4 linked regions of the Homo sapiens genome follow. The protein of the gene in region 4 interacts with the protein of the main gene of each other region in a biochemical or structural test. Each region holds a gene or a part of one and is shown on either strand. Other genes may lie near its edges. The genes, in order: COPE, COPA, COPB2 and COPB1.

Region 1 (8,349 bases), on a different chromosome or scaffold from region 4:
TATCATTTGGAAAAAGGGTCTTTGCCGATCAGATTAAGAGATAAGGAGATGAAGACATGCTGGATTTAGGGTGGGCCCCAAAGCCAAGGACTTGTGTCCTTTTAAGAGATAAAAGGAGGGCTGGGTGCAGTGGCTCATACTTGTAATCCCAGCACTTTGGGAGGACGAGGTGGGCAGATCACCTGAGGTCAGGAGTTTTCAAGACCAGCCTGGCCAACGTGGTGAAACCCCATTTCTATTAAAAATACAGAATTAACAGGATGTGATGTCTGTGATTCCAGCTACTTGGGAGGCTGAGGCAGGAGAATCGCTTGAACCTGGCAGGCAGAGGTTGCAGTGAGCCAAGATCGCACTAGTGCACTCCAGCCTGGGTGACAGCGGGAGACTGTCTTAAAAAAAAAAAAAAAAAAAGGAAAGAGGCCCACAGAGTTAAGCCCATGTGACAACAGACTGGAGTGACATGTCTGCTAGCCAAGGAGCACCACGAGTGGCCAGCAGCCACCAGAGCTGGGAGAGAGGCCTGGGACGGCCTTGCCCTCCAGCCTCCAGCTGGAGCCAGCCCTGCCGCCACCTTGACTTCAGACTTACGGCCTCCAGAGCTGTGAGGAACGAATCCCTGTTGTCCTTAACTGCCCGGGCTGTGGTGCTTTGCCACAGCAGCTCCAGGACATTGAGACAGGTGACCTCCCAGGGCCACTGTTTCTCCCACCCTGCACTTACTTCACCAGCTGGAGTGAAGGCAGGGAACCCTGGGTCCCCCAGGAGCAGCAGCTGCTGTGAGCATCACAGAAAAGCAGCCCCGGAGAGCAGGCGGTCCAGGCAGGGGCTTGTGGTCCGTTCATCTGGCTGCACAGCCGCGACCTCATTGGCAGGACGCCCCGGGGACAAGGAGCATCCATTAGTAATTGGTTTTGGTTTTGATTTTGTTTTCTTGAGATACGGTCTTGCTCTGTCGTTCAGCCTGGCATACAGTGGCACAATCTTGGCTTACTGCAGCCTTGATCTCCCAGGCTCAAGTGATCATCCCACCTCAGCCTCCCGAATAGCTGGGACTACAGGCACGCATCACCATGCCTGGCTAATTTGTATATTTTTTAGAGATGGGGTTTTGCCTGGCCGGGCGCAGTGGCTCACACCTGTAATCCCAGCACTTTGGGAGGCCGAGGCGGGCGGATCACGAGGTCAGGAGATGGAGACCATCCTGGCTAACACGTGAAACCCCATCTCTACTAAAAATACAAAAAAAATTAGCCGGGCATGGTGGCGGGTGCCTGTAGTCCCAGCTACTCGGGAGGCTGAGGCGGGAGAATGGCATGAACCCGGGAGGCGGAGCTTGCAGTGAGCCAAGATCGCACCACTGCACTCCAGCCTGGGCGAAAGTGCGAGACTCCGTCTCAAAAAAAAAAAAAGAGAGATGGGGTTTTGCCATGTTGCCCAGGCTGGTCTCAAACTCCTGGGCTCAAGCGATCCGCCCAGTAATTGATTTTGTTGCTGTTGCTTGTTTTTGAGATGGTCTCCCTCTGTCACCCAGGCTGGAGTGCAGAGGTGTGACCACAGCTCACCGCAGCTTCAACCTCCCGGGCTGAAGCCATCCTCCTGCCTCAGCCTCCCAAGTAGTTGGGACTACAGGCGCCACCAGGCCCAGCTGACTTTCTTACTTTTTTGTAGAAAAAGGGGTCCTACTATGTTGCCCAGGGTGGTCTTGAACTCCTGGGCTTAAGCGATCCTGCCTTGGCCTCCCAAAGCGCTGGGGTTACAGGTGTGAGCCACAGTACCCGGCCCCATTGGTAATTGTAACACCTTAGGATGACAACATTACAGTACCAACGCTACGACAACTGGCAGTGTTTATACACCCTTGTGTGCTGGAGCCTCAGGAAGCTTTGTAAGATGGTCTTGGGAGCTCCTTGCTCCTCCCCTGCATGATCCCTGTAACATGGTCCCTCAGCACGGGGAAACAGACTCAGACCTGAAGTCACTTGTCTGTTGGACCTGGCACTGTGGCGAGCCCTCAGTGGAGCCTGGTTGGTATCAGACATGCCATGCCCTCAGTGACACCTCAGACACGGGCCCTGGGCAGACAGCCCCCAGATGCGCGTGGATGCTTACGGGGTCACAGAGCCACGTTTGAACCCAGAAGAACACCAGCTTTGGTCTAGGGTGGCCCCCTCACCTGCCTTCTCTTTTTAGCTGCTCAATAGCCATGGGGAATGGAGGGTCTGGGTCCAGTTAGGGACATGGAGGCATGGGTGACCTGTGCCCTCGGAGCTGAGCCGGTCCTCAGCCTTGCCTGGGCTCAAGCCTGGCCCTGGCCCGCAGCACACTGGCCATCTTCAGGGTGCAGCCAGCACCCTGGGCTCTCAGGGACTGAGGGCAGCTGCCCTGGCAGTGGGGGTGCCCCAGGGCTCCCATCCTTCTGCACGGCCCCTCGGCACCCAGGCCGACCTCCTGCTAGAAGACGTGGCCTTGAAGCCCACAGGGTTGATGGGTTATGGTCAGGAGTCCCAGCTGGGCCCACCAGCCTCCTCAGGAAGGCGGGTGAGGTTGGTGTGAGACTGACGGTGCCTCCTCATGTCCCCTTGGAGCGCCCCACCCCACATCTCCCGGCCTCGGGTCCTTGCCTGGCCCAGCATGAGAGGTGCTTCATAGGAACGGAGGGAGGACATGTCGGGACAGCTCGATGCTCGGCCTGCTGCTGCTCTGCACCCCCAGGGCCTGGCTCACCCTCTCTGGACCTGTCTGCTTCCAAGGAAGGGGACCCTCTGAGGTCCCACAGAGGCCACCCCAGCTGTGGGTCGTGAGCATCTCTGTCTTGCAGGGACAGCATCGTGGCCGAGCTGGACCGAGAGATGAGCAGGAGCGTGGACGTGACCAACACCACCTTCCTGCTCATGGCCGCCTCCATCTATCTCCACGACCAGAACCCGGATGCCGCCCTGCGTGCGCTGCACCAGGGGGACAGCCTGGAGTGGTGAGTGGCCTCCCTGCTCTGGGGCCAGCCCAGGGAGGCAAGTGCCCCCTGCCACATCTCCAGGCTGCGCACGGCCTCGCTGGCTGTCGTCATGGGAGCAGAGAAAGGTGGTGCTGAAATGAGGCCCTGGCCTGCTGTCCAGGCTCCAGCTCCCCTGCCCAGTGTGGGAGGCACTCCCATCTGCGCACCAGGCTGCAGATCCAAGGACACGGTGCCCAGGCTGCAACCCTCTGTTCCCAAGGGCAGAGCAGAAAGCGGCTTTGTCTCTGCTCGGTTTCTGTGTCCCCACCCCCCACGAAGCCTTCTGTGTCTCGGCCCTGGGCCCAGTCTCTCAGGCCTCCCCGGGCCCCCCATACCGGCCCTCCTCCAGGGCCCTCTGGGGTTGGGGTGCTGAAGCCCTGCAAGGTTGGTGCCCCCCTCCACCCTAGGATGTGACTCCGGGCCATGTCCAGGGCACTGGTCACAGAAAGTGTGTCAGTTCTTCCCCGTGAGCTGTCCCTGCAGTGCCTGCCTTCCACTGTGAGTTGCAAGCTGGGCATTTCATGGTCGCTGTGGATCTGCTCCCATCCCACCTCCATCCACAGAGGGCTTAGAATTGCAGGGCGAGCCAGGCATGGTGACATGCACCTATGTTTCCAGCTACTTGGGAGGCGGAAGCAGGAGTATCCCTTGAGTCTGGGAGGTGGAGGCTGCAGTGAGCCGTGATGGTGCCACTGCACTCCAGCCTGGGTGGCAGAGCCAGACCCTGACTCACACACAAAAAAGAAAATAAATAGGGATGTCACACTGTCGGCGAGCCGGCCGACTCGGTGCTGGTCCAGGTGCTGGCTCCTGTTGGCAGGAAAACAAGAACAAGAGGCCTCACGAGTAATTCGTGGTCACAGCCACCTGGGGCTGAGAGGGATGAGGGGACGAGGGGGCCTGCAGAGAGTGGGTGGCCCCAGGGCTCTGCTGCAGGTGCAGGTGCAGGGGCGGGTGCGTGGCCCTCCTCTAGGGCCTTGTTCCTGAGTGTTGATGCCTCCAGGGTGTCGAGTCCGGGCAGGGCCCTCCATCTGGAAGCACAGCCCATGGAGGCTGCTTCTCCAGATGGGCGGTGAGTGGGCCGGGGCCTGAAACCCCATCCTGGGTACCTCCCCCAGAGCTCCTGGGCCTGAGGAAGCTGAGCGGTGAAATGTGGGAGTGAGGGTGTCCTCCTCTGCTGGGCGGGGCTGGTGGTCCTAAGCACAGGACTTAGGAACATCCCAGACACACACAGTGAGCCCTGGGTGTGGAGCGGCCATGCAATGTGTCTGTGGCGACCCGCTGACCGCCCCCTCGCCCTGTCCTGCAGCACAGCCATGACAGTGCAGATCCTGCTGAAGCTGGACCGCCTGGACCTCGCCCGGTGAGCCCTCCTGCCCCTCTCCACCCGCACTGAGCCACAGCCCAGAGCGTCACAGCCCAGAGCGTCACAGCCCAGAGCGTCTGTGGTGCTGTCATTACTCTTGTTGTCTTTCCTTTCCATGGGGGTGGCTTGCTGTCGTTCAGCCCTTCCCTGCAGTATGTTGCCAGGGAGGAGGGCCATGGCTCTCTGTGCCTCAGTTTCTCTCTATGCAGTGGGTGGCAGGCCTCTCCCACAGGGTGAGGGTGGGCTTCATGGAGGGAGAGTGGAGGTTGTGCCTGGAGCAACATGTTACTTGACCAGCTTGTAACTGTGCCGTGGGGCTGGCGGGGCCTGCACGTGGCATCACCAGGTCGGAGGCCATGGCTGGGGGTCCAGGACTCCCCTGCTGCCGTTTCCAAAGCCCTTGCCTCAGAGTTGTTCACACTGTAGTTCCGTTGCCCTTCCCTGCGTTCCATCCTCCATGGAGTGAGTCTCTCCTGAGCTCTACCTTGTGGTGGCCACCCTGGGGGGCCATAGCTGGCCCCAGTCCCACCTTCCCAGGGCCTGCACGTGGTCAGACGGGCAGGGTGGCTCGGGCACTTAGTCGTGGGGTATGAGCATGCAGTGGAGCACAAAGCAGGGGCCATCCCCAGGCTCCGGTGGGCCCCAAGTGGGGACAAGGCAGGGATGGCCAGGCCAGGGCCCTCGGCCACTCAGCCCCTCTGTCATCTGTCCCCGCCCCAGGAAGGAGCTGAAGAGAATGCAGGACCTGGACGAGGATGCCACCCTCACCCAGCTCGCCACTGCCTGGGTCAGCCTGGCCACGGTGAGCCCTAGGCCATGAGGTGGGTGGGCATTGCGGGCACCTGGCTGAGCAGGGTCTGTGGGCACCCCCACCTGTGCGTAGGCTGCTGGCCACTCCAGTGGGGCTCCAGGATCAGGCCGTGGCCCCTGCCAGCCTGGCATAACTCAGCCTTGACTCCATTCCGGGCTTCTCACAGCCAAGCGACTTGGCCAGAGCCAGAGCGAAGAGATGGTGGGGGCGGGGACGGGTTCCTGAGCCTGAGGCACAGGGGTACTCGAGGGTCTGGGTTGGCCTGGCAGGCCCTCCTCCCCTCAGGGCTTCCTGGGGTTTTCTGCGACTCAGCTTTGCTCTCCAGGGTCCTGGTCGCCAGCCAGGGACGGAGTTCAGTGTTCCCATAGCAGCGGTGGAGATGTCCTCAGCTCCCAGGCCTGGGCACCTCCGCCCGGCAACAGCCCCTCTCCTGGTTTCTGGGACTTGGCCCCCTTCTGAGCCACTCTTTTGTGTGGGCCTATTAAAATGTGCTTCCTGGCTGGTCGCAGTGGCTCACGCCTGTAATCCCAGCACTTCGGGAGGCCGAGGCGGGTGGATCATGTGAGGTTGGGAGTTCTAGACCAGCCTGACCAACATGGAGAAACCCCATCTTTACCAAAAATACAAAATTAGCTGGGCTTGGTGCCATGCACCTGTAAACCCAGCTACTCAGGAGGCTGAGGCAGGAGAATCGCTTGAACCCGGGAGGTGGAGGTTGCGGTGAGCCAAGATCGCGCCAGTGCACTCCTGCCTGAGCAACAAGAGTGAAACTCTGAGAAAGAAAAAAAAATGTGCTCCCCGTCCCTGCCCGCCACGGGGCTGAAGCCTCACCCAGACAGACTTCCAGTGACCGTCTAGTATGGTAGGACAGGCCCCGGCAGACCTATCGGGTAGTTTGGGCTGTTTTCACTGCCTGCCTTGGCCTCAGGCTCCCCCTGCAAGTGTTCTGCTGTTCTGAGCAAGTGGACAGGTCAGGGCTGCTGGTCACAGAGCTGACTCCTCCTCCTCTGACGTGCTCAGTGACCCAGTGGTCCCCACTCAGACCCTGAGCCAGCCACCTGTGCACTGAGGCCTTGGAAGCCCCAGATTCCACCTCTGTGTACTCAGCACTCCGGGAGCTGGGTGGGAGGTGGGGCAGGAGGCGGCCACGAGTCTTTAGGCCCCATCAGCAGAGTACAAGTTACGGGTAGTCCCCATGGCGGAGTGGCTGTGCCTTGAACCGGGCACACCAGATTCGTCTCTGTGCAGTGCTGGAGTCCCCCCCGCTAGGGGAGGGGGCTGGCGGGGGAAGGGCCGGGCAGCAGGGGCACAGGCAATGATGCGGGACCCTCCCTGCAGGGTGGTGAGAAGCTGCAGGATGCCTACTACATCTTCCAGGAGATGGCTGACAAGTGCTCGCCCACCCTGCTGCTGCTCAATGGGCAGGCGGCCTGCCACATGGCCCAGGGCCGCTGGGAGGCCGCTGAGGGCCTGCTGCAGGAGGCGCTAGACAAGGTAGGCACAAGCCTGTCCCAGAGTGGGGACGGAGGGAAGGCCAGGCGGCCAGAGGGTGGGGTCAGGGCGGACAGAAACAAGTGTAGCAGAGACCCCCTGGGTGTGCGTGTGGCCCCACAGGGCTTCTAAGGCCCAGTCAGCAGCGAGATCCACAAAGCAGGGATCTCACCTGCAAAGAAATCCAGATTCCGGCCTCACAGAAATGGGGCATCTGGGCAGCCTGGGCCTCAGTGGTCTGAGCCGTCCTTGTTGTCACCTCAGCTGCCTGGCCCGGGACCTGCAAGTGGGACCCCTCACCTGAGTACATACTCAGTATTGGAGAGACACTCCCCGTACTTATGTAGGGGAGAGTGTGCTGTGGACAGGAGCTCTTCGTTGAGAGAGCGCTGCCTGCCCAGGGTGGCTGCAGTCATCTCCTGCCTGATGTCTGCAGTCTTTTCTTCCTTCCTTCCTTCCTTCCTTCCTTCCTTCCTTCCTTCCTTCCTTCCTTCCTTCTTTCCCTTCCTTCCTTCCTTCCTTTCCTTCCTTTCCTTCCTTTCCTTCCTTTCCTTTCCTTCCTTTCCTTCCTTTCCTTCCTTTCCTTTCTTCTTTTTTTTTTTTTTTGAGATGGAGTCTCACTCTGTCACCCAGGCTGCAGTGCAGTGGTGTGATCTCAGCTCAATGCAACCTCCGCCTCCTGGGTTCAAGTGATTCTTTTGCCTCAGCCTCCCAAGTAGCTGGGATTACAGGCGGCTGCCACCACGCCTGGCTAATTTTTGTATTTTTAGTAGAGACGGGGTTTTGCCATGTTGGTCAGGCTGGTCTCAAACTCCTGACCTCAGGTGATCCACCCGCCTCAGCCTCCCAAAGTGCTGGGATTATAGGCGTGAGCCACCACGCCTGGCCATCTGCAGTCTTTATGAAGAGTTTATGTTATGTTAAATTAAAAATATATATATATTTTGTAAAGACGGGGTTGTTCTTGCTGTGTTGCCCAGGTTGGTCTCGAACTCCTGGCCTCAAGTGATCGTCCCACCTCAGCCTCCCAAAGCATTAGGATTATAGGTGTGAGCCACCATGCTTGGTGGATTTTTTTTTTTTTTTTTTTTGAGATGGAGTCTTGCTCTGTCGCCCAGGCTGGAGTGCAGTGGTGTGATCTCGGCTCACTGCAAGCTCTGCCTCCTGGGTTCATGCCATTCTCCTGCCTCAGCCTCCCGAGTAGCTGGGACTACAGGCGCCCACCACCATGCCCAGCTAATTTTTTGTATTTTTAGTAGAGATGGGGTTTTGCTGTGTTAGCCAGGATGGTCTCAATCTCCTGACCTCATGATGCTGCCCACCTTGGACTCCCAAAGTACTGGATTACAGGCGTGAGCCACTGTGCCCAGCCTGGATTATTATTTTTATAATCAGAAAGGACATCAAAGCTTTTTCCATTTTGGAGAAACGAATTTTGGGGGGTTTTTTGTTTGTTTTTTGAAACGGTATGCCACCATGCGTGGCTAATTTTTGTATTTTTTGTTAGAAATGGGGTCTCACTGTGTTGTCCAGGTTAGTCTTGAACTCCTGGGCTCAAACAATTCTCACCCTCCTTGGCCTTCTAAAGTGCTGGGATGATAGACATGCGCCAGTGCGCCCAGCTGAGAAACAGTTTTAATCTAGTGACAAACACTGGTGAAGCCCTCCTCCCTGTCTGACTTTCCAGGG
Region 2 (8,440 bases), on a different chromosome or scaffold from region 4:
TACTGCTCTTTCCTATTTCACTGTGAATATCTCTCTATTATATTGCTTACCAAACTGTACATGCTATTACTTGGATATATGTTTATCTTCTGTATTAGAATAAAAGCTCCTTGAAAACAGAAGCCATTTCTTATTTATTTTTGAATTCCCTAAAAAGAAAACAGTGTCTGGTACACAGTAAGCATTCAATAAATGTTTGCTGAGTAAGTTCTCCGGATAATGTTGTCAAAGGCCTGAGCTCTGTATGAATGAAATTTCCTGTCTTTCAGTTCCTTTCATGATTCCCAAACCTTCCCACATCCTCTTTCCTTTATTCTCAGTTATGACAGACCCTCTGTACCTTAATCTTATAGTCATCTCCTCCAGAGACGAACAGTGGCTGCTGCTTATGGAAGTCAATGCCTCGCACTGGACCTGGTGGAGAAGGCAGGCAATGTATGTTAGACAGAGCTATCCTTTCTAATCTCTAAGGTGATTCCTATTCAGGATTTTTCAGTTCTATCATTTCCACATTCTTTAATCATAGAGGAATCCATGTCAAACAAGGCTTAAAATACCCCAGGATATTATAAATACTTATACTCCTTTAACTTCCTCCTAGAAATATCTCACCATCATGTTCATCAAACTTGTCAATGAGAGTGCACATCCGATAGTCCCATAACTGGATGACCCCATTATGTAAACTAGTCAGGATCCAAGGTCTTTTGGGGTGAAAGCTGAGCCCTGAAAAAAATAGAAAATGATACAATGAGCTAACTAAGCCCCATGATGTCACCTTCTGTCAATTCTGATAAGAAAAAGAAACATCAAGGTTAATCCTAGGTTCATTCATTCGACATGCTTGATGATTTTTTACTGGATGCCAGACATCGTGAATTTTATGTTTGGTACTAGATTTTTGTCATATTCCTTTACATATTCTTGGGCTTTGCTCTAGGATACAATTAAGTTACTTGGAATCAGTTGATCCTTTCAAGGCTTGCTTTTAGGTTTTATTACAGAGGGGCTACAGCAGCCTTCATTCTAGGCTTAATCTGGAACCACTATTAAAGCAATAGCCATCTGAGGTCTCTATTTGAAGCCCTGTAATATTAGGAAGTCTTTCCTTTCTGGCAAGTAGGAACACAAACTAGTCCCAGTTCACTAGTGTGAACTCTGGGGATTGCTCTGCCTTCTCCTTTCCAGTGGTCCTTTTTCAGGTTTTGAATAGTTTTCTCACATGCAGATCAGTACTCAAACAAAGACCTGAGAAGACATCCTGCAGATCTCTAGTGCTCTCTCTCTGCAGCCCCCTCTTCTCCGGTATTTTGCCCAACAAAATCTAGCCATCTTTGCTTCCCCACACTCTAAATTTATGTCTCCTCAGAAAGACCAAGGGATTCCCCTCTTCACTGAAGCCTAAAAACTCTCTAGGCAGTAATCTACGACAATCACAGGACTCACCTTGTTTATTTGCCTTCTCTGGAGAATTATTTTCCTGCACTGCCTGTTGCCCAACATCTGTGAGCAATGTATGAACCTTTGTTTCATACATTTTGTTCAGTTGTATAGTTAAGGTGGGAAGGTAAATCTGGCTCTTGTTATTCTATCATGACTGGAAATGGAAGTCCCCAGAGGTAACAACTACTAACAGTTTGAAGTGTATCCTTTCAGATTTTTAATGCAGTTACACATAGACATAGGCTTTAGTATTTTATGAAAGTGGGGATCACGTTATGATGTTGTTCTGCAAACTTCTTCCTCACTTAACTATATAATATGGATCTCATGGAAGTACATATAAACATAACCTCATTCTTTTTAACTACAAGGGACAAATGTACTACACTTATATTATTCTAACAGGCATTTTGTCCGCCAATTTTTGGCTATCAGAAGAGCCTACTGAAGATACTTCTACACATAATCTAGCCTATTTGCATTATTACTGCCCTAGGCTAAAGACCTGTGAGATTGCTCAGGAATAGAATATGTGCACTTAACATTTTAGTACATATAGTTTAAATGTAAAAACACTGTATCAATATACAGTCTCATGAAGTTTATGGAGGTGCCCATTTTGCACACAGGCTGCTATCAGCTATTTGTTGTTTTGTTTTATAAATCTAAGACCCTCCCCCCAAAAAAGTAACTTAACTTTTTTTTTCTTGCATTTCTTTCATTACTAGTGAGGTGGAACTATTTTAATTATTTATTGAACATTTACAATTTTTCTTCTAAATTGTCTATTTTTCCATTAGGTTCTTTTTTTTAATTATGATATATAAGTACACTCAACAATGGATGTTTGCCCTCAAATATTATGACATCTTTGTTTTTCCTTCTGTACTGCCCAGCAAGAAATTAGGAGCAGAAAAGAAAACTGAAAGATTATGAAGACCCATTTCACATTTCACCTATACAGGTCTCAGAAATTCTTAATGGTACCCATCTTTCAAGGTCAAGTTTCCCAAGAGACTTAGAAACTGCTCAGAATATATTCACACATTGATAACAACCTCCAGTTTTTGAGCTACTGAGTCTACACCAGGCGCTGTAATAAATACACTCCATATACTTTCTCATTTTAATACTCTCTATAAAAGACGATTTTACAGATGAGGAAATACAGACTTAGAGACATTAAGTAAGTCATCCAAGTCACAGCTTGTTAGTGGATGTCTCAGGATTCCAAGGCAAGCCCATCTGACTTCAAAGACCAAGTTCCTAACCACTTTGTTACGCTGCATCTCACTAAATATTCTAGATACTATTTTTTCCAGGTCTTCGGAGACCTTACTTCTCTGACTTTCACATTCTAACGTTCTGAGGCTAATACTGCGATCTCAGTATTTGCCCTCCACCCCCAACGACCCACACTCGAGCTCTAGAGCTGCCGTACTTAGCAAATAAAAATACGAGATTTCCAGATAAATTTGAACTTCTGGTAAGCAACGACAGACTAAAAAACTATTCATTGTTTACCTGAAATTCAAATTTAACTGGGTATCCTGCATTTTATCTGGCAACTCTATCAAGTTGAGACTTTATTGGGGTTATAAGCCTCAAGTACTATTTCCGGGTAGTAAATAAAGCCGAATGGAGGCACTGATGTTGAGATGCTGCAGCCAAGGCCTCCTTAAGTGAGGTTGCCACTACTCGTCTCCAAAAAGGCTACTGACTCGGGTGCGAGTAACAGAGATCGAGACTCAGTTCCCAGGGCCACTCCATATAACACAGTCATCAAAAAGCCAACAGATCACAGGGCCTTTGGAGCAGAACAACACAAATCGGGAGCACAGCCAAGAGAGAAAGGGGGAAGAAAGAATAGGGAGGGGGTCTAAGGAATCCCCTGCAGTGTGGGAGCCACTTTATAGGTAAATCGAAGCCCAAGGACACACCAAAGAAGAGGGGACTGGAGAACCGCTAGCCAGGCCCAACCTCTCTCCCACCCTCCGTCTTCCTCCGGGTCCGTCTGGTGGGCCCATTTCGACCAACACCTCTACCCATTTTCTCTTCCCCGGTGTCAGCGCCGCTCCTGACATCCAACCTCCATGTTCCCCCTTTTATTCTCCACTACCTTTGACCCGCGCGCTCTTGGTCTCGAATTTGGTTAACATCTCTCAGGTCTCCGACTCCGATGTCTTAATCCGAGCCCCGACACACCCTGCTGCCCTTCGGACGCCTCCACGTCAGCGACCCTCTCCCGCGGTTTCCGGAAGCGCCTGGAAACACGAACTTCCGGTCTCTTAGGCTCCGGGCCACAGAGACGGTGTCAGTGGTAGCCTAGAGAGGCCGCTAACAGACAGGAGCCGAACGGGGGCTTCCGCTCAGCAGAGAGGCAAGATGGCTACGGCAGGGGGTGGCTCTGGGGCTGACCCGGGAAGTCGGGGTCTCCTTCGCCTTCTGTCTTTCTGCGTCCTACTAGCAGGTGAGGCCTCCCCGCCCGTGAGCTCCGTTCTCTAAGGGGAACTCTCGGATCGGCCCCGCCGCGACCGCCACTGTCTCCCTTCTGGTTCCTGCTGCCCCTCTGTCCCCCCACCCTGTAAATCCTCTTTCTTTTTCGTTCCCACGACAGAAGTTCCCCCTTTGCCTGGACCTGAAGGTCCCTTCTCCCCCGCAGCACGTCGTGTCGCTTCACTCCCTTCTCTAGGCCTCTTCCTGGACTTCGAGCCTGACCCTCTCCCACTTTGTCCAGATGTCTCGTTTTTCCCACAACCCCAGCCACCCACCCCACAGTCGAAAGGAACAGGTGTGAAAGTTAGCTTTCTTCCTCGCGTTTAGACTTTTTGAGACGAAAGCAATCTTGTTCTGTGGGTGCTGTGCGGCGCTTAAAAGGTGGATTTCTTATTTCTTCCTCTGTTGATTACATCCTAAGTCTGTGTCCCCCTGCCTTGCCTCAGGTTTTTTTTTTTTTTTTTTTTTTAATCAGTAAAGCAAGAATAAGGTAGGATATGGGTACTCTTAACTGTGAAGACCCTGAAGTAACAATTCAAGGAACTTTTGGCATTTATAATGTACTTAAGTGTTTGCTGATACGCGTTCATTTACTGATACATGGCTTTTTAGTTGGTCAAGCCCTAAAATGCAAATGCCTGTATATAACTATGACTGTGCCTTCCCCCAATTCACATTGTTTTTAAGGATCCTCAAAGGAGAAACTACAGCTGCCCCACACTGTGGGCACACAAATGACCTGCTGATGTTAAATTAACTGACCCGTGTATGTCATAAGGTTTCTCTCAATTCTGTTCACACTCTTGGAAAAATGCCTCAGAAAGTTTTCTTAGCCCAGCACCTGTGTATTAACCAATTAGTAATATACATACAGGATATACAAGCAGAAGTGTGATCACCTGTGCAACCAGAATCTGGCAAATCTAAGGTCAAACACCTTTCCTTTGACCAAGTTTTCTCTCTTTTAGTGTCACTGTCAATGGCGCTACATGGACTTTGTAATAACCCTTTGAGGCACATAGCTGGGTGCCATGTAGAACATGTATCTGTTACGATAAGTGTGTGCCCAAGAAATCAGAAGAATGGACTTTAATCTCATTTTAGAAAGTATGATATTAAATGATTTACCCAAGCCATACTTCAGGTTAATGACACGATAGAAGCTAGTACCTGTGTCTCTCAAATTTTTCTAACACTTTTTATCTTCCGATCAGGTTTGTGCAGGGGAAACTCAGTGGAGAGGAAGATATATATCCCCTTAAATAAAACAGCTCCCTGTGTTCGCCTGCTCAACGCCACTCATCAGATTGGCTGCCAGTGTGAGTTGAGATGGATTCATGTTTGTGGACATTGATATTTGTCTGTGCCCTAGATACTAAGTAACATCCATGTCCTGCTTAGGAGATTTGACACTTATATTGGACTGTATGTAGGCAGTTACAGATAACCGTCTGTCAAGCTAGGCAAGATAATTAATAAGAACTAACATTTAGTAAATGCTGCATACCAAGCTTTTTACATGTGCATCTCATACAACCCCAACCACAACCCCACAAAATAGGTCTTACTGTTATTGTCACTTTATAAATGATGAAACTAAAACTTAAAGAAGTTGAGTAACTTTCCCAAGATCATACTGGTAATAAGTGATGATGCCAGGATCTGGTGGCCCGAGCACTAAGCTGAGAGACCTTTTTTTTTTGACACGGAGTTTCACTCTTGTCCCCCAGGCTGGAGTGCAATGGCACGATCTCGGCTCACGGTGACCTCTGCCTTCTAGGTTCAAGTGATTCTCCTGCCTCAGCCTCTTGAGTAGCTGGGATTACATGCACCTGCCACCATGCCCAGCTAATTTTTGTATTTTTAGTAGAGATGGTGTTTCACCATGTTGGCCAGGCTGGTCTCGAACTCTTGACCTCAAGTGATCCACCCACCTTGGCCTCCCAAAATGCTGGGATTACAGGCGTGAGCCACCGCACCCAGCCGAGCCAGCACTCTTAACCACCCTATTATACTGTTTTTTAAGGAGAAAAAAGTCTCATATTCTATGGTGTCCAGTTATCACTTGCACTCTGAACTTTTTGGAACCAAAATGGGCTAAAGGCAATGAACTATCTGAAGAGAAGGCACTGAAAATGCCAAATAGGCTGGGCGCAGTGGCACATGCCTGTAATCCCAGCACTTCAGGAGGTCAAGGCGGGTGGATCACTTGAGGTCAGGAGTTTGAGACCAATCTGCCAGCATGGTGAAACCCCCCCATCTCTACTAAAAATACAAAAATTAGCCGGCTGGCTGCTATGGCATGCCTGTAGTCCTAGCTTCTCGGGAGGCGGAAGCAGAAGAATCCCTTGAGCCCAGGAGGCGGAGGTTGCAGTGAGCTGAGATTGTGCCACCATACTCCAGTATAGGTGACAGAGTGAGACACTGTCTGAAAAAAAAAAAAAAAAAAAAAAAGAAAATGCTGAATAATTGCAAGAGGAATTAGTGAAGCATTCTATTTATCCTTTTTTAAAACTTTTTTTCCTTAAATTCAACTGACAGGCCGTTTATTTTCACACTTTGTGTGTTCCAAAAGAAGGTTCCATGACACTGTGGCTTTAAAAACTATCAAAATCATAGGGCAGGAAAAGTAGTAATCTAAAGGCTAACCTGCTGTCTTCAGATTTTGTTTCCCATGGACAATAGCTCTGTCAGAATGTAGTTTTGCAGATAAGCAGGAAACTTGGGGTCTGATACTGGCTTCTTCATCATCAAATTGATCACCTCTGAATTTCAGTTTACCCCTGGAATAATGGTTGGAGTACTTGCATAAAGCTGAAAGTCAAATACCTCTTAATAGTTGTTTATTGATGACGCTAGGTAAATAGGGTGGTCTCAAAAGTGCTGTATAATTTCCTGAAGCCTTCTTCCCATTTGATAAGAGAAAACTGGGACACTGAGAAGTGAAGGACTTGTTCGTGGAAGCAGTTACTACTTTTTTAGCCATCTTTCCCTGAGCTATAGTATCTGTTAATTGTCCCATGTCCCTGCTATACAAAGCACTGGGAGTAGGTTGACTGGTTCCAAACAGCCCCAAATAAAGTTTTTGTTGTACTTAGTTTCTTTTTTTTTTTTTTGAGATGCAGTCTCGCCCTCTCGCCCAGGCTGGAGTGCAATGGCACAATCTCAGCTCACTGCAACTTCCTCCTCCCAGGTTAAAGCAATTCTCCTGTCTCAGCTTCTTGAATAGCTGGGATTACAGGCGCGTGCCACCGTGCCCAGCTAATTTTTTGTATCTTTAGTAGAGGCGGGGCTTCACCATGTTGGCCAGGCTGGTCTCGAACCCCTGACCTCGTGATCTGCCCGCCTTGGCCTCCCAAAGTGCTGGGATTACAGGCATGAGCCACCATGCCCAGCCCTCTGGACTTAGTTTCTGAACTGGTTTGTAGGTAGAAGAGAGCTAGGTCCAGGGTGGGCTGAGATCAGACTGCTGGTCTTGCTGGAACCTCACTATAAAGTACAGAAGGCCAGGACCCCAACCTCTTGTAACTAGGCTCTAAGAAAACTCCTTTGGGAATAAGTCATTCTACTCTATGTTCTTAAAACAGCTCTGTAGGAAGCAAAGCCTCTAGAGGTAAAGCCACGTGCCAGTACAGAGAAACAAGAGGGGGTAAGCGGGACTGTGGCCACTTCCTCATTAAGATCTTGGTTCCTTTTCAACCTACTTATTTCCAAATCTTACTTCGTCATATCTGTCTTTTCTGAGCAGGCTCCGCCCTTTTTAATTAGTGTAGCTAACATGATAAAACTAAGGAGAAAAAAGTGATACCCAGATTTGATTTCTGATTATAATACTCTGCTTCTCTTAGACGCTTTAAAGTTCTCAAAGGGGGCTTTAAATAGGTTTCTTTTCCCTCCCTCCCTCCTTCTATCCTTTCTTCCTTCTTTCGTCTGTCCCCACAGTATGAGATGAATAGAGGTAGAAAACCTCATTGAAGGCGCAGAGAAAATAAGCAAGTTACTTAAGACTACACCATTACTAGTTGGAACCCAGATTAGAATCCAGGTTTTTTTCAGTCCAGTATCATAGTTTGTCTTCCTGTCCTCGCTGGAGTTGAAGTTTTGGGGTGTGTGTGTGTGTGTGTCAGAGTCTCACTATGTCACCCAGGCTGGAGTGCTGTGGCACAATCTCAGCTCACTGCAGCCTCCGCCTCCCAGGTTCAAGCAATTCTCCTGCCTCAGCCTTCTGAGTAGCTAGCATTACAGGTGTGCACCATCACACTTGGCTAATTTTTGTATTTTTAGTAGAGATGGGGTTTCGCCATGTTGGCCAGGCTGGTCTCAAACTCCTGACCTCAAGTGATCCACCCACCCACTTCGGCCTCCCAAAGTACTGGGATTACAGGCATGAGCCACTGTGCCCGGCCGAAGTTATATATGTTTTAGTTGCCACACTATCTGTTCCTTTTCCCATGTTTTAAATGCTGTGGCAAGGGCCGGGCATGGTGGCTCACTCCTGTAA
Region 3 (8,349 bases), on a different chromosome or scaffold from region 4:
CAGTTGATATTTCATTATAGTACAAACACAAGCAGCATCAATAGCACAGTAATGGATCTAAATAGTTTAAAGGCCGCTTGGAATTAGAATTATATTTGTAACAGCAGTTAAAGCATAGCATGTCTCAGTGAATGAAAATGAATTACCCAAAGAGACGCACATGACCAAAAAAGGTCATCTCTTACCACTGCTAGTTAGAATGAAAGGCTGGGTTGGATGAACAGCAATACAGCGAATGTAGTCTGAGTGTGCTTCAAACATATGAACTCTCTCCAGAGTATTGTAATTGAACACTCTAATCTGCATGTCATCCTAGAAACAGAAATTTTAAAACCATCATCCCTGTTATCAAGTAAATTATACAAAAAAACTATATCACAGGCTCAAGGAATAAAGTCTATGCCTCAAAACATTGCTGTAAATAACAAAACAAATCGGGAATCAAAATCCTGCAACAAATTTACACAATCATTGACCAATTCAGAAAATGGGAATAGAGATTCATATTAATTACTTACCGCTCCTGTCACAACCCAATTCTTCCTTGCAACAAACTTTGCAGCTCGAACAGGAAGATCACATACTTCAAATGTCTTCACCAGTGTCTTTAAAATGTAACAAGAATACACAAATTGAGCTATAAGAAAATAACCACAAAATCTACTCTGTTATATTTCAAACATCCAATTTTTAAGATCACTTCTCATTTTAGTATATTCTCAGGCTAAAATATAAAAGCTCAACATTCAAATTTTTAAAAAAGACCAACTATCTTTTAATAGATTCGAAATTAAAACACTTTTTAAAAGATAAGAGAAGGCAAATATCCACAAGATGGTATTCCAGATCCTCTGTGCTCCAGCCCTTCCCTCCCTTTTCCAGCCTCACCTTTGGCTACTCCCAGCCTCACCTCTGCTCTTGTTGTCTCTGACTTGAAAATCCACCCATGGAAACTTGTACTTCCCTTTCATAATGTAGCACCTCATAATTATGTTTAGTGCCAATCTTTCCTGCTAAGCTCTCCAAAGGCAGGAATATTTTTCACACTGTATAGGCAGAGGATAGAACAGTGGCTGGCACACAAGTAGTGTGTAATAAATATTTGTTGAATGAATTAGCTCTTAGTTTCTTTTTTTCTTTTCTTTTTTTTTTTTTTTTTTTTTTTGAGACAGTCTTACTCTGTCACCCAGGCTGAAGTGCAGTACAGTGGCACAATCTTGGCTCACTGCGACCTCCGCCTCCCAGGTTCAAGTGATTCTCATGCTTCAGTTACCCAAGTAGCTGGGATTACAGGTGTGCACCACCATGCCAAGCAAATTTTTGTATTTTTCGTACAGACGGGGTTTCACCATGTTGGCCAGGGTAGTCTCGAACTCCTGGCCTCAAGTGATCCACCCGTCTCAGCCTCCCAAGTGCTGGGATTACAGGCGTGAGCCACTGCACCTAGTCAGTCTTTTTGAAATTGAAACCCATAAAAGTGACTCATGAATAAGGTACAATTCTTTTGCATGCTTTAGCAATATGATTCCATACAAATGTTATTATTTCTTTTTAATAAAATATGAAAACACCGTGACTTATATGTTCCTCCGAGCTGCTCAGAATGGAATTATACACATAGGATAAAGGTAGAGACCCTCCTAGAAAGAGCAGAGATCATGGTACCTCTTTGTTCTCCTTCTTTGATGCCTGTTCTTAAAAGTCTGAAAGTCAAACTATCATTTTCTAATCCTTTTTTGTATCAGAGAGCAAAAATGAAATAACTAAGAAACACAATATAATCTTACTGATTGATTAACCATGTGCACTAAAAAAGTAATAGGGACCGGTTCATAAGAACTGTCCTACTCTGACTTTTCAAGCCAGAGTTCAAAGATTCTTTAGACAAAGGCTGAATGAGTAGGCACTTCAACTCTAACCTGTAGAATCACTACCAGCTGACTATGATACAGAAACTGAGAGTAGACACAACATGCGATCTATAACACGGCAGAAAAATCCACAAAAGCTCATGAGGAGCCAACAAATCCAGGGATCTGCTGAGCAGTAAAAATAAAGCAGCTGCAGAAGAAATAGCCAAGGTTCAACGCCATGTTAGGGGCTATGACTGATGCAAATAAAGAGTAAGAAAAGCTACACACACAATACATACAAATACTCAACGTAGATTAGGAAAGTATAACTAATGACTAATACTTATATGGTACTTTATAGGTTTCATACACAATTTTATCTAATTTTATTTTATCTTTTTGACAATCCTGTGATGTAGGCAAGGCAATAATATCATCTTCACTTCAGATAAATAAAGAGGCTCAGCATGGTTAAAAGGCTTGCCTATATAATTTAATCAGCAAGTTGGCTTCAAATCCTAAAATACTATGTTTTTTAAACCACTGCATGTACCACCTCAAAGAATATATAGCATCTCCTTATTTGAAATTCAAGTACATCTAAAAACCTTTTTACTTCCAAAAACCTTTTTGGCTCTCTCAAGAATTTGCTCTCAATATAGGAGTGGTAAATGCTGTTGGTGATATAAACACAGGGAAAAAACAGGGAGAATCAAAGACAGATTAATCATTCAACAAAGACTTACTATCTACCAGGAGCCTGACAGTGTATCAGGTAGTGCCTCATGCACTGGACCAACAGTGGGAAATAAGATGAGGGTAATCCTTGTCCTCACAGAACCTCCATTCTTAGAGGAAAGAAGGAAATTAAACATGAAATTACCACTGAGATGAATTATGAAAGGGGAAGCAGATGGTCCTGTCATAGGGCAGAAAAAGGTATAGAAGAGAAAAAGGAGGCAAAGTGGAAATGCAGATAAAGCAGAGATATATTACAATAAAGCCTAGAGAAAGATAAGAAAAGTACGCCTGGGCTTTAGAACATACGATGATCAAGTGATAGAGCTGAGATAGGTAAATGTAGCTGATAAGAGGGAATCCCTAGGAATAATCAGAGAGAGAGGACACCAACGTATCTGTTAAACATAAAATCAGAAATATTTTAAACATCTCAAGAACTAAACAAAAAGCAAAAAAAAAAAGTTATTTGCATCAAAGCAAAAACAATTCACAAGATAAAGATCTGAAATTGTAGAGAACACAAATACTGAACTAGTGATAAGTGAAATGCATATTATTCATTGGTTGAACAAATAATTATTGAGCATTTACTATGTGCCAGGTAATGTTATAGGTACTGAGATACAGCAGAAAACAAAATGTTAATTTATATAAAATGTCACTGATGGACTATGATATGGTTTGGATTTGTATCCCCACCCAAATCTCATGTCAAATTGGAGGAGGACCCTGGTGGGAGGTGATTGGATCATGGGGGTGGATTTCCCCCTTGCCGTTCTCGTGATAGTGACTTCTCATGAGATCTGATGGTTTAAAAGTGTGTGGCACTTCCCACTTTGCTCTCTCTCTCCTGCCATCATGTGAAGAAGGTGCTTGCTTCCCCTTCACCTGCTGCCAAAATTTTAAGTTTCCTGAGGCCTCCCAGTCATGCTTCCTGTTAAGCCTGTGGAACTGTGAGTCAATTAAACCTCTTTCCTTCATAAATTACCCAGTCTCAGGTAGTTCTTTACAGCAGTGTGAGAACAGACTAATACAGGGTATGAGTTTAGTGTACAGTCATTTCTGTTTCATTACAGTGAGTATAAAAGTATAAAGGTGTTTTTAGGTTTACTTCTGGCTTTGGTTCCTTGATGTCATTTTGCCATTTTAAATTCCTCAAATGCGAATTTTACCTGGATTTCAAGAACTTAACTTTGGACGTTAAGGATAATTACTATATAAGTAGACACAACTGTATAGTATAGTGCTAACTATATGCTTTGTACTCTTAAATACAGTCTAGGAAGACTGGAAAATATGAGACAAACTAATTTGAAGGATATGTTATTTACTCAGGTGAAAGAGAATGAGTCAAGCATTCAGGCAGACAATCTGTAAGATGTGTGTATAATCAAAAGCTGACTATAAATATTTCCCTGATATAATCTATATGGCTGAGTGAAAGATTTATCTGTGTATCATTATATTGGGCATCTGGGAGAAAAATAAATTTAACGATATCATTCTTAAGATAGAGTATTCACTGAATGGAAAACTAACGATTAAATACTTTAGCAAGTGATTCTATAATACCATCAGTTTTCTCAATTTCAAAAAAGAGCTAATACTACCTAAGTCAGAGTTGTTATATTTAAATATTGTATATAACATACCCAGGACAGTTTCTCCTACAAACTATCCCCTCATAAATGTTAGTTCCTTCATATTTAAAATACTTTGTACCAACTTGAGAAAGCAGTTTGCATATAGATTCTGGATTCTGTTATAATATTTCTTCTCTTTCATTATAAACACAGTCTCACATAGTATTTTATTTCTAATACAGTCCTGAAAAATTCCTACCTGTGTTTCATGATTCCAAACACACACACTGCCATTGTAAAGACTTGCCAACATCCATGGCTCTGTAGGATGCAGATCCACACTCTTAACTCGATCAGATCTAGCAGTTAGCTTTCTTTTGATATCAAGTCGCAGAGGCTAAAAAGAAACATTAAAAAAATTAAATTGCTAAGCCAAATAAAATATGTTTGAGATTTTAACTAAATAAGTGCATGAATAGGCCTACAAAACAATTCAGCTACTACTTTGCTAAGCTTTTGAAACAGTTTCAAGTCTAAGCACTTATTTCTTCATTTACACATCAAAAAAATCAGAATATTCAACATTTTAAGATTTACAGCAGTGGTCTTCAAGCTTTTTGCTCTAAGGATTCCTTTATAGTCCTTAAACACTTTGAGGACCCCTAAGAGCTTTTGTTTATGTGAGTTTTAGCTATTGGCATGTTACCATGTTAAAAATTAAACCTGAGACAACTTTAAAATATTTATATATTAATTCATTTTCAAATAACAAAAATAAATCCAGTACATGTTAATTAAAATAACATGTTTTTATGAAAAATAACTATGTTTTCAAAAAATTTAGTGAAAAGAGTGGCAATATTTTACATTTTTGCAGAACTCTTTATAATCTGACTTAACAGAAGACAGATGGTTTCTCATTATCTGCTTCTGCCTTCAATATGTTGTGATATGTTGTTTTGGTTAATGTCTACAAAATAATGCCTGGTCTCACAGATACCTAGTTGGAAAGTGAGGAGTATCTTAATAGTTTTTTCATTACTTGAAATTCTTCGAAATTCGAGAAGTGGTAGTTTCTTAAAGGCTACTTGCAAGGTAAAATCTGAAACCGTATCAATAAGCTGTTTATACTTCGTTACATTAAAATCCATTGGTTAAGTCCATACTTTGAATGGATCTTTCTCTCATGCATGTTTTTCTACCATTAAGCATTGGTCGTTTGGAAAATGCTGGTCCACTGAATTATGCACATCTTCTAGATGCTAACAACATCATGATACTGTATTAAAAAAATTACACATTCACTAATTTCACCACCTACTTCAACTGATAAGCCTTTAAGCATTGGAAATCCATCAAGTTCAGTGAGTTTTTCAAAATTCGAACTTTCACTTGAAAGCTTTAATTTTATCATTGGCAAGAAATACTGTCAGGGACCAGCCAACCTCTTTCAGGTTTTTAAAAAATGTCGACCAAATATTCAAGTCTGAATAAGCAGAGTTTCTCAGTCATTGTTTCAAGTAAAGCTCACAACTTAAAAACGCTACAAGTGTTTCCCCTTGAGACAACTACGATACTTCGGTATGCAGTAGAACTGCTTTATGCATACTCCCCATTTCACCACACAGAATTTAAAAGATGCATACTCAAGTGTGGAGAGGTAATAACATTTTTACTGTTTCATCAATGACATTCTTAAGTGAAAATGACTTTTTAAAAAACTGTCACAATGAAGAATATACTAACAGTACAATTTGGTGTCACTTCACTAGCAGTTTTACCTTCCACTACTTTTACACCATCAGTGCAAATATCAACATTGTGAAAGGTGCCAATAGCGTCTCACTGTTAAGAAAATAATTTTAATTTGTGGACCTCCTGAAAGAGTTTTAGGGACTCTTAAGGAATCGCAGACCACATTTTGAGAACCTCTAGTTCATAGAATTATCTAGTAAATAAATTTACTTTTTTTCTTTTTGAGACGAAGTCTCGCTCTGTCGTCCAGGCTGGAGTGCAGTGGCGAAGTCTCGCTCTGTCGTCCAGGCTGGAGTGCAGTGGCGCTGATCTCTGCTCACTGAAACCTCTGCTTCCCGGGTTCAAGCGATTCTCCTGCCTCAGCCTCCCAAGTAGCTGGGACTACAGGCGCATGCTACCATGCCCAGCTAATTTTTTGTATTTTCAGTAGAGACAGGGTTTCACCGTGTTAGCCAGGATGGTTTCGATCTCCTGACCTTGTGATCCGCCCGCCTCGGCCTCCCAAAGTGCTAGGATTACAGGCGTGAACCCCCGCACCCGGCCAATGAATTTTAAATATTCACAAATCACAATTTTGTGCCCAGGTCAATAGTGTCATATCAGGAAATATTCTGAAGAAGTGTTATTCATGAAGTCCTAGTAACCATAAAGCATAATATTGAGTTCTTTGGAGAAAAATGGTAGATTTATCTTGTCAAAAATACTAGTAAATGCTAGGTAACATAATGTGTGATCAATAAGGGTTATATCCCTATGCATGATGGCCTTTGGTATCAAATGGGAATGTCTGAAATATTTTAATGGATTTAAATTACAGAAACAATGAAAATTGGAAAAATTTAAAACAAAAATAAAAACATTCTCTCAAGTCAGAAAATATGAATAGTTTATACTAGCATTTTCAAGCCAAATTCTTCCTTTGAATTACAGAACAGATAATTATTTGAATAACTATTTTCTCCATTCTCCAAAAAATGCCATTATAGGAGAAAAGTTAATTCAATATATACAATGATCCTTAGGGCAGTGGGCTTAATTCTCTCTAGGAGGCATGCTGAGAAAAGACTGATTTAAAATATATTTCCCCTTCAACAGGTCTTAAACACAACCTAAAAGCTCATTTGGCAAGTTGAGTTACTGTCAAATCTTTATTGCTGTGATCTTCTATGATGATCATGAATGGGACAGAAATTTAAGGTTACTTTTGAATATAAAAAGAAGATCTAGCAGAGACAACTTCCTGAGACAAAACACCTCACAATGCTTTTACTCATCTTTTTTGGGGATTTTTATCAAATTTGGGTCATTGACTACTTCAAGTCTTGTTCTACCCACGCCTCCTTCATTTTCAGCAACAACCTTTACCTCTTACTTTAAAAGATCAGAGTTCTCTGGCTCTTCTCTTCAATCTCCTCAAAAATGTTTTCACTGTCATCAGTCCCTTCCTCTCTCCAATTTTCTACTTTCTTGTTTTTTTTTTTGAGACAGAGTCTTGCTCTGTCGCCCAGACTGGAGGGCAGTGGCGTGATCTCGGCTCACTGCAACCTCCACCTCCCAGGTTCAAGGGATTCTGCCTCAGCCTCCCGAGTAGCTGGGGACTACAGGTGCCTGCCACCATGTCCAGCTAATTTTTGTATTTTTAGAGACAGGGTTTCACCATATTGGCCAGGCTGGTCTCGAACTCCTCTCCTGACCTTGTGATCCACCCACCTCGGTCTCCCAGCTCCAATTTTCCACTTTCAAATCATCATCTTAACATTCCTTGCTAGTTCCCAAAATCAAGGCTTTTTACTTCATTTCTGAATTCTGCCCCATAAATTACTATTACAAATTTTAACTTCTTTTTAAATCTCTATGGAGTCAACAGGTATGAAGAGTCTATTATGTACCAGGCAGGAACCATGGTGAGGGTTTTCATATAAGCCAGCATGTCTCACAATTTTCCTCCAGTAATGAGGAAATTGGACACTTACAAATTGTGAACATTTTACTTTAAAATATTTTAAATTATTGATTATTGAGTAAAAGTGATGCTCCATAAGTTGGGCCAATGAACTCTGAGCAACCCCAGTAAACCTCTACATACTCCCAAAGCACAAATCTCAGTTTAAAAAAGAACAGGCAGCCAGGCGTGGTGACTCATGCCTGTAATCTCAGTACTTTGGGAAGCTGAGGCGGGAGGATCACCTGAAGTCAGGAGTTTGAGACCAGCCTGGCCAACATGGTGAAACCCCGTCTCTACTAAAAATACAAAAAAAAAAAAAAAAATTAGTTGGACGTGGTGGCACGCGCCTGCAGTCCCAGCTACTCGGCAGGCTGAGGCTGCAGAATCACTTGAATCTGGGAGGTGGAGGTTGCAGTGAGCCACGATTGCACCACTGCACTCCAGCCTGGGCGACAGAGTGAGATTCTGTCAA
Region 4 (6,149 bases):
GGCAGCTTTTTGAATCCTCTCTAGTTGAATCCTCCCAGTACCAGCTTCAGTAATTGGTTAGAACCAGTTTTATTCCTAACAAACATAGAACACCCTAAACTAAATGTGAGTAAGGCACGGAGGCAACAGAGAAAAAGGCAGCTTTTTGAATCCTCTCTAGTTGAATCCTCCCAGTACCAGCTTCAGTAATTGGTTAGAACCAGTTTTATTCCTAACAAACATAGAACACCCCAAACTAAATGTGAATGATTAAAAAATCTATTTTGGATTATCTACTCTTCATTATGATTCAGGATAATTAAGAACAGTATATCTATTTCAGTTCGGGTACATAATACTTCTTTAAACTGCAGAGCGATCTGTTTTCTCAAGTTATTTTGGGCCGGGTGCGGTGGCTCACGCCTGTAATCCCAACACTCCGGGAGGCTGAGGCGGGCGGATCACGAGGTCAGGAGATCGAGACCATCCTGGCCAACATGGTGAAAGCCCGTCTCTACTAAAAATACAAAAAATTAGCCAGGCGTGGTGGCGGGCACCTGTAGTCCCAGCTACTTGGGAGGCTGAGGCAGGAGAATGGTGTAAACCCGGGAGGTGGAGCTTGCAGTGAGCCAAGATCACGCCACTGCACTCCAGCCTGGGTGACAGAGCCAGACTCCATCTCAAAAAAAAAAAAAAAAGTTATTTTGATACTTTCTCCCTGGAGCTAAATTCAAGAGCAAATCCCTTCAAAACATGATAATGCATTTTTAGAGATAGCAATGTTGGAATATTAAATAAGTAAAAAACAACCAAGTGAATCAAGGCCTACCTTATTTTATATCATTGAATTTGTAAATTCTCTTAATAAAGCTGCATATATTCACAACTCAGTAATTTAAATTTATAATAGAAATTTATAACCCAACTAAAAGAAATCCATTGCCATATAACTAAAATTATGTAATCATTTATTTATAAAATAACAAAAATTTATGAATAGATCTGTTTATTGTACTGTGAAAAGGGTCTTGGTACATGAAACATTATATACTTTGAGGACAGCATTCAGAACTGTTAAGACAAAAGACAAACTATAATTTTAAACTCAATCTTGATTTAAGGGAAAGGCTATAAATTATTGGCTGAAAAGTATTCAGCATGAACTCAGATTCTATATAAGCATGAAAGAGTACAAAAGATGTTGGAGTCCAGTAAGCCCATACCTAAATTAACTGTAAAGCTTCAAGGACTTTTTGTTTATTTTTATATACTAGTTTTCTTCTGTGACAAGTTGATTTTATCTCCAAGACTTAAGGCCATTCCCTGTAAAGAAAAATTAAGATATTTATAATTATTTAAACTATGTACAATCAGTAGGTTATTCCATATTATTAAGCCCCAATTCAATTCAATGACACCATTATCAACAATAAAATCAAGGACATACCAAACAGACTTACCAAACTTTACTGGTAATTACCTTTCAGTGCTAGATTTTTCAAGCCGTCACCAGATTTTTTTTTTTTTTTTTTTTTTTGAGACGAAGTCTCATTCTGTCACCCAGGTTGGAGTGAAATGGCACAATCTCAGCTCACTGCAACCTCCACCTCCCGGGTTCAAGCAATTCTCCTGCCTCAGCCTCCCGAGTAGCTGGGATTACCGGGTGTGCGCTACAACACCCAGCTAATTAGTCACTAGATTTACACCTTGGCTTTCAAAAAATTCTAGAGAACCCATTTCACAAACACCCCATAGGAATCAATCTGGTTTTAGGCAAATATCCCAGAATGAGGGGCCCAAAAGGTGAGAAATTTTAATGAGAAAAGTTATACTTCTATTCAGAGTATATTATTATTGTATGTGTATATGCATCTAATGCTAAAAAGATACTACATATAGAAATAATAAAGTCATAAATTCCTCCCCCCTTTGTCAGTCCAGAGATACTCTCAAAAAAAAAGGAACTGTTACCTGGCTCTTTGCACGAATTCTTATATGGCCGGTAACAGCAGCATCTGGTCCCTGGTGAATTGGCTTCTCAATGCTGACATTTGCAAGTGCATCTTCACCAAATATGGAACGAGCATAAAGGTTGGCTGCCATAAAGCCACAGTAACCAGAAAGGGCCTGGAAAAAATTTGTGATAAATTCATTACTTTACCAGATACCTACATAGAGGCAAAAACCAAACAGCATAGGTGACTTTTTTTTTTTTTTTTTTGAGACAGAGTCTCACTCTGTTGTCCAGCTTGGAGCTGGAGTGCAGTGGCGTGATCTCGGCTCACTGCAACCTTCCTCCCAGGTTCAGGCGATTCTCCTGCCTCAGCCTCCCAAGTAGCTGGGATTACAGGCATTCGCCACCACACCTGGCTAATTTTTGTAATTTTAGTAGAGACAGGGTTTCACCATGTTGGCCAGGCTGGTCTTGAACTCCTGACCTCAAGTGATCCACCCGCCTCGGCCTCCCAAAATGCTGGGACTGCAGGTGTGAGCCACCACGCCCAGCCCCATTGGTTATTTATCACTTAAAACAGTACTTACATACAGGGTGGTGGTTACATAATCTTATGAGTTTGTCAAAACTCAACTATACATGTAAAAAGTGTGAATTTTACTGTGTATTATACCTCAATAAATCTGATGTTAAATAAATAGTTCTTAATCCGATTTGTATTTATATATTCTGTTTACTTAACTTGCTTGACTGCCTCCCATATCAGACCTTAAGCGCCATGAAGGAAGAGACTACTTTTGTTGGACTCAGTATATGCTGAATAAACTAATATATAAATTAAAACCTACTTGTTTGGTAGCAGACATTATTTTATTTATAAAATGAATATTATAACATTATAGAAATTTTACATAAAGAAAAAAGTTCCTTAGAGCTCCAGCTTCATTTTTCTTTCTCTCTCGTTTTTTTCATACATACACAAACATAGCAAAAAGTCACAGTATAACAACGATTCTGTATTTGAGCACATATATTTTAACCAACAATCAGAGCCCACGGAAGAGCTCATGGACATTTTCTAATCCAGTATTACAAATAAACGATTTTATTTATCTTTTTGAGACAGAGTTTCACTCTGTCACCCACGCTGGAATGCAGTGGTGTGATCTCGGCTCACTGCAACCTCCACCCCCTGGGGTTCAGGTGATTCTCCTGCCTCAACCTCCCAAGTAGCTGGGATTACAGGCACGTGCCACCACACCTGGGTAATTTTTGTATTTTTAGTAGAGATGGGGTTTCGCCATATTGGCCAGGCTGGTCTCAAACTCCTGACCTCAAGTGATCTGCCCGCCTCAGCCTCTCAAAGTGCTAGGATCACAGGAATGAACCACCATGTGCAGCATAAACTACTTTAGAATGTGCCTCTAGCTGAATGGGGGAGAAGATTGAAAAGAAAATAAAAAAAAAATTAATCTGACTATTCAGTTGGGTCACTGCACTAGGAAAAAGTAGGATGGTATAGTCCAATAGAAAGAGGTAAGCAGATTCCAACATTCTATGGGATAACATCTTTTAGATAGCCTAGAATGGTACTGCATATTGAATAACAAAAATGTGCTAGAGGAAATACAGGAAGGCCAGGAACCTACTCTACCATTCCATCAGATTTCTGAATTTCCTAGTCAAATTTTACCTTTTCTGGAGTCAGGCATTTCATATTGGTTGACTTTAATATGTGCTGTAAGTAGTCATTTAAATCAACCATGTTGGTGTTAACTGTCACCTGTAGAGAGGAAAAAAAAGTCAAGGAGATCATAAATCTTACTATGAGAAAGCTGTGAATCACCAGTATGTCATATTAAAAACTTGTTCCAACTGTTTAGGTTGGAAAGAGTAGACACCAAGAAACTAAATAACATCTATAAAATCCAACAAGCTGTAGGTTGGTATCAGTACTTCCCAATAGAGATAACTTCACAGAGATTCAATATGAAGCATATAGAATATTTCTTTTTTTTTTTGAGACAGGGTCTCACTCTGTCACCCAGGCTAGAGTGCAGTGCGTCATTTCAGCTCACTGCAGCCTCAACCTCCCATGTTCAAGTGATCCTCCCACCTCAGTCTCCGGAGTAGCTGGGACTACCACACCGGGCTAATTTTTGTATTTTTTGTAGAGATGGAGTTTCACCATTTTGCTCAGGCTGGTCTAGAACTCCTGAGCACGAGCAATCTGCCTGCCTCAGCCTCCCAAAGTGCTGGGATTACAGGCACGAGCTACCGTGCCCAGCCTCATATAGAATATTTCTAATAAAAGTCAAGGCTCAAAGGGACAAAGTTCCTCAACAGACCATGAACTTTGTAAAGCCTTTTTCGGGCACTAGATTAAATGGTAAGCTCTTGGTCATACATAGAAGGGATGGAATATTACCTATAATGTCTAAACCTATCAGATTGGCTATAGAACTGCTACTCTAATCAATTTATAACAGCAAATTACCAAACTACTTACATGATTTTTAGTTAAGGCTAATTTGCAAGAACAGATACTGAAAGACTATTTGCTTTTCATGTTAAACACTTTTTAGCGAGATTAATTTTATTAGCAGACTCCTCAACAGCAGGCAAAAGGAAGAAAGATAAAGGAATATGAGAAAATCTCCCAAGGACTAACTTTGTTTTCCCATTCAAATTCGGCCCACATCTGACGGAATTCTGCATCAGTGCAAGTTGCAGGCTGGATATAGTCCATGATGTCGATGTGAATATCACTGAGAACCACACAATTTCTGTCACTTGCTGCTCCAGAGACATCATAAACTGCAATTACATATACAAAAAGATTCGCAATCACTGGGGCAAACTTGAATTTAAAAAATCTTAATATCCAAATATCCAAAGAACTACACTATTAACAATAAGATTGTTTATATAATACTTATTATGTACAGAGCTCTATTCTACATGCTTTATAAATATTACTGGTTTAATACTCCCATCAATTCTGATAGTATTATTATTTTCCATCTTACATATGAGGAAATGAAAGCAGAGAAGTTAAGTAAGTTGTTCCAGATCACACAACTGATAAGTGGTGGGGATAGGATTCGAACTCAGGCACACTTTGTTTTTTGTGGTTAAACAAATAATTCAATTCAGTGAGTACTTACATAGCAGTTGCAGCATACTAGGCACTGCAGCAGATATACAAGTGGACGATGTTCCCATAGGAGGTACTTAACTAATACTTTTGAATAAATATTGCTGACCCATACTACTTAATGATACAAGATTAGTCATCCCTCAGTATTAATGGGGAATTGCTTCCAGGACCCCCTATGGATACCAAAATCTACAGATGCTCAAGTCCCTGATATTAAATGGCATAGTATTTGCATTACCTATACACATCTTCTCATATATTTTAAATCATCTCTAGCTTACTTACAGTACCTAATACAACATAAATGCTATGTAAATAGTTATACTGTATTGTTTAGGATATAATGACAAGGAAAAAATGTCTATATATGTTCAGTATAGACACAACCATTTTTTTTTTTTTCTAAAATATTTTCAGTTTGTGGCTGGTTGAATCCATGGATGTGGAACCCACGGATACAGAAGGCTGACTATATTTGCTTCTATGACCATTTCTTCCACAGTAGAGAGTTATAATCTGATTGGAGCCTACATTCCTCTTTCTAGGCTCTTTTCTTTTCTTTTTTTTTTTTTTTTTGAGATGGAGTTTCACTCTGTCACCCAGGCTGGAGTGCAGTGGCACAATCTCAGCTCACTGCAACCTCCACCCTTCGGGTTCAAATGATTCTCCTTCCTCAGCCTCCTGAGTAGCTGGGACCACAGGCGCCTGCCACCGCGCCTGGCTAATTTTTTGTATTTTTAGTAGAGATGTGGTTTCACCATCTTGGCCAGGCTGGTCTTGAACTCCTGACCTCATGATCCACCCGCCTTGGCCTCCCAAAGTGCTGGGATTACAGGCATGAGCCACTGTGCCCGGCCTCTAGGCTCTTTTCTTGACATTCTTCCACTCTTTCAACTTTCAGGGAAAACTGAGGCTACCAAGAATAAGCTCCTTTAATTTTCAGCTCCACATCTAAAAACAACTCTCTCTCTTGGAATTCACTCTCACATCCTTCCCTCTCATACGTATCAGAGAAGTACTACCTCATTTCTTCAAGATTAATACTTCCTGCCATCT

Evidence for each region.
Region 1: the proteins of COPB1 (region 4) and COPE form a complex in vitro, tested with the Homo sapiens proteins (one study listed by BioGRID).
Region 2: the proteins of COPB1 (region 4) and COPA form a complex in vitro, tested with the Homo sapiens proteins (one study listed by BioGRID).
Region 3: the proteins of COPB1 (region 4) and COPB2 form a complex in vitro, tested with the Homo sapiens proteins (one study listed by BioGRID).

Annotation. Positions count from the first base shown.
Region 1 is NC_000019.10:18,901,582-18,909,930, reverse strand, and holds part of COPE (coatomer subunit epsilon), read left to right. Parts: intron 1-2,818; coding exon 2,819-2,971; intron 2,972-3,995; coding exon of another isoform or gene 3,996-4,064; intron 4,065-4,301; coding exon 4,302-4,355; intron 4,356-5,078; coding exon 5,079-5,160; intron 5,161-6,507; coding exon 6,508-6,663; intron 6,664-8,349. UniProt on the Homo sapiens protein: The coatomer is a cytosolic protein complex that binds to dilysine motifs and reversibly associates with Golgi non-clathrin-coated vesicles, which further mediate biosynthetic protein transport from the ER, via the Golgi up to the trans Golgi network.
Region 2 is NC_000001.11:160,339,569-160,348,008, forward strand, and holds the start of COPA (coatomer subunit alpha), read right to left. Parts: upstream 3,683-8,440; 5' UTR 3,603-3,682; coding exon 3,563-3,602; intron 727-3,562; coding exon 613-726; intron 415-612; coding exon 341-414; intron 1-340. Other genes in the region: NCSTN (nicastrin isoform 1 precursor), read left to right, coding at 3,829-3,913, 5,154-5,258. UniProt on the Homo sapiens protein: The coatomer is a cytosolic protein complex that binds to dilysine motifs and reversibly associates with Golgi non-clathrin-coated vesicles, which further mediate biosynthetic protein transport from the ER, via the Golgi up to the trans Golgi network.
Region 3 is NC_000003.12:139,378,862-139,387,210, forward strand, and holds part of COPB2 (coatomer subunit beta'), read right to left. Parts: intron 6,569-8,349; exon of another isoform or gene 6,143-6,568; intron 4,575-6,142; coding exon 4,437-4,574; intron 606-4,436; coding exon 519-605; intron 313-518; coding exon 186-312; intron 1-185. UniProt on the Homo sapiens protein: The coatomer is a cytosolic protein complex that binds to dilysine motifs and reversibly associates with Golgi non-clathrin-coated vesicles, which further mediate biosynthetic protein transport from the ER, via the Golgi up to the trans Golgi network.
Region 4 is NC_000011.10:14,456,582-14,462,730, forward strand, and holds the end of COPB1 (coatomer subunit beta), read right to left. Parts: intron 4,751-6,149; coding exon 4,605-4,750; intron 3,717-4,604; coding exon 3,627-3,716; intron 2,107-3,626; coding exon 1,951-2,106; intron 1,303-1,950; coding exon 1,243-1,302; 3' UTR 931-1,242; downstream 1-930. UniProt on the Homo sapiens protein: The coatomer is a cytosolic protein complex that binds to dilysine motifs and reversibly associates with Golgi non-clathrin-coated vesicles, which further mediate biosynthetic protein transport from the ER, via the Golgi up to the trans Golgi network.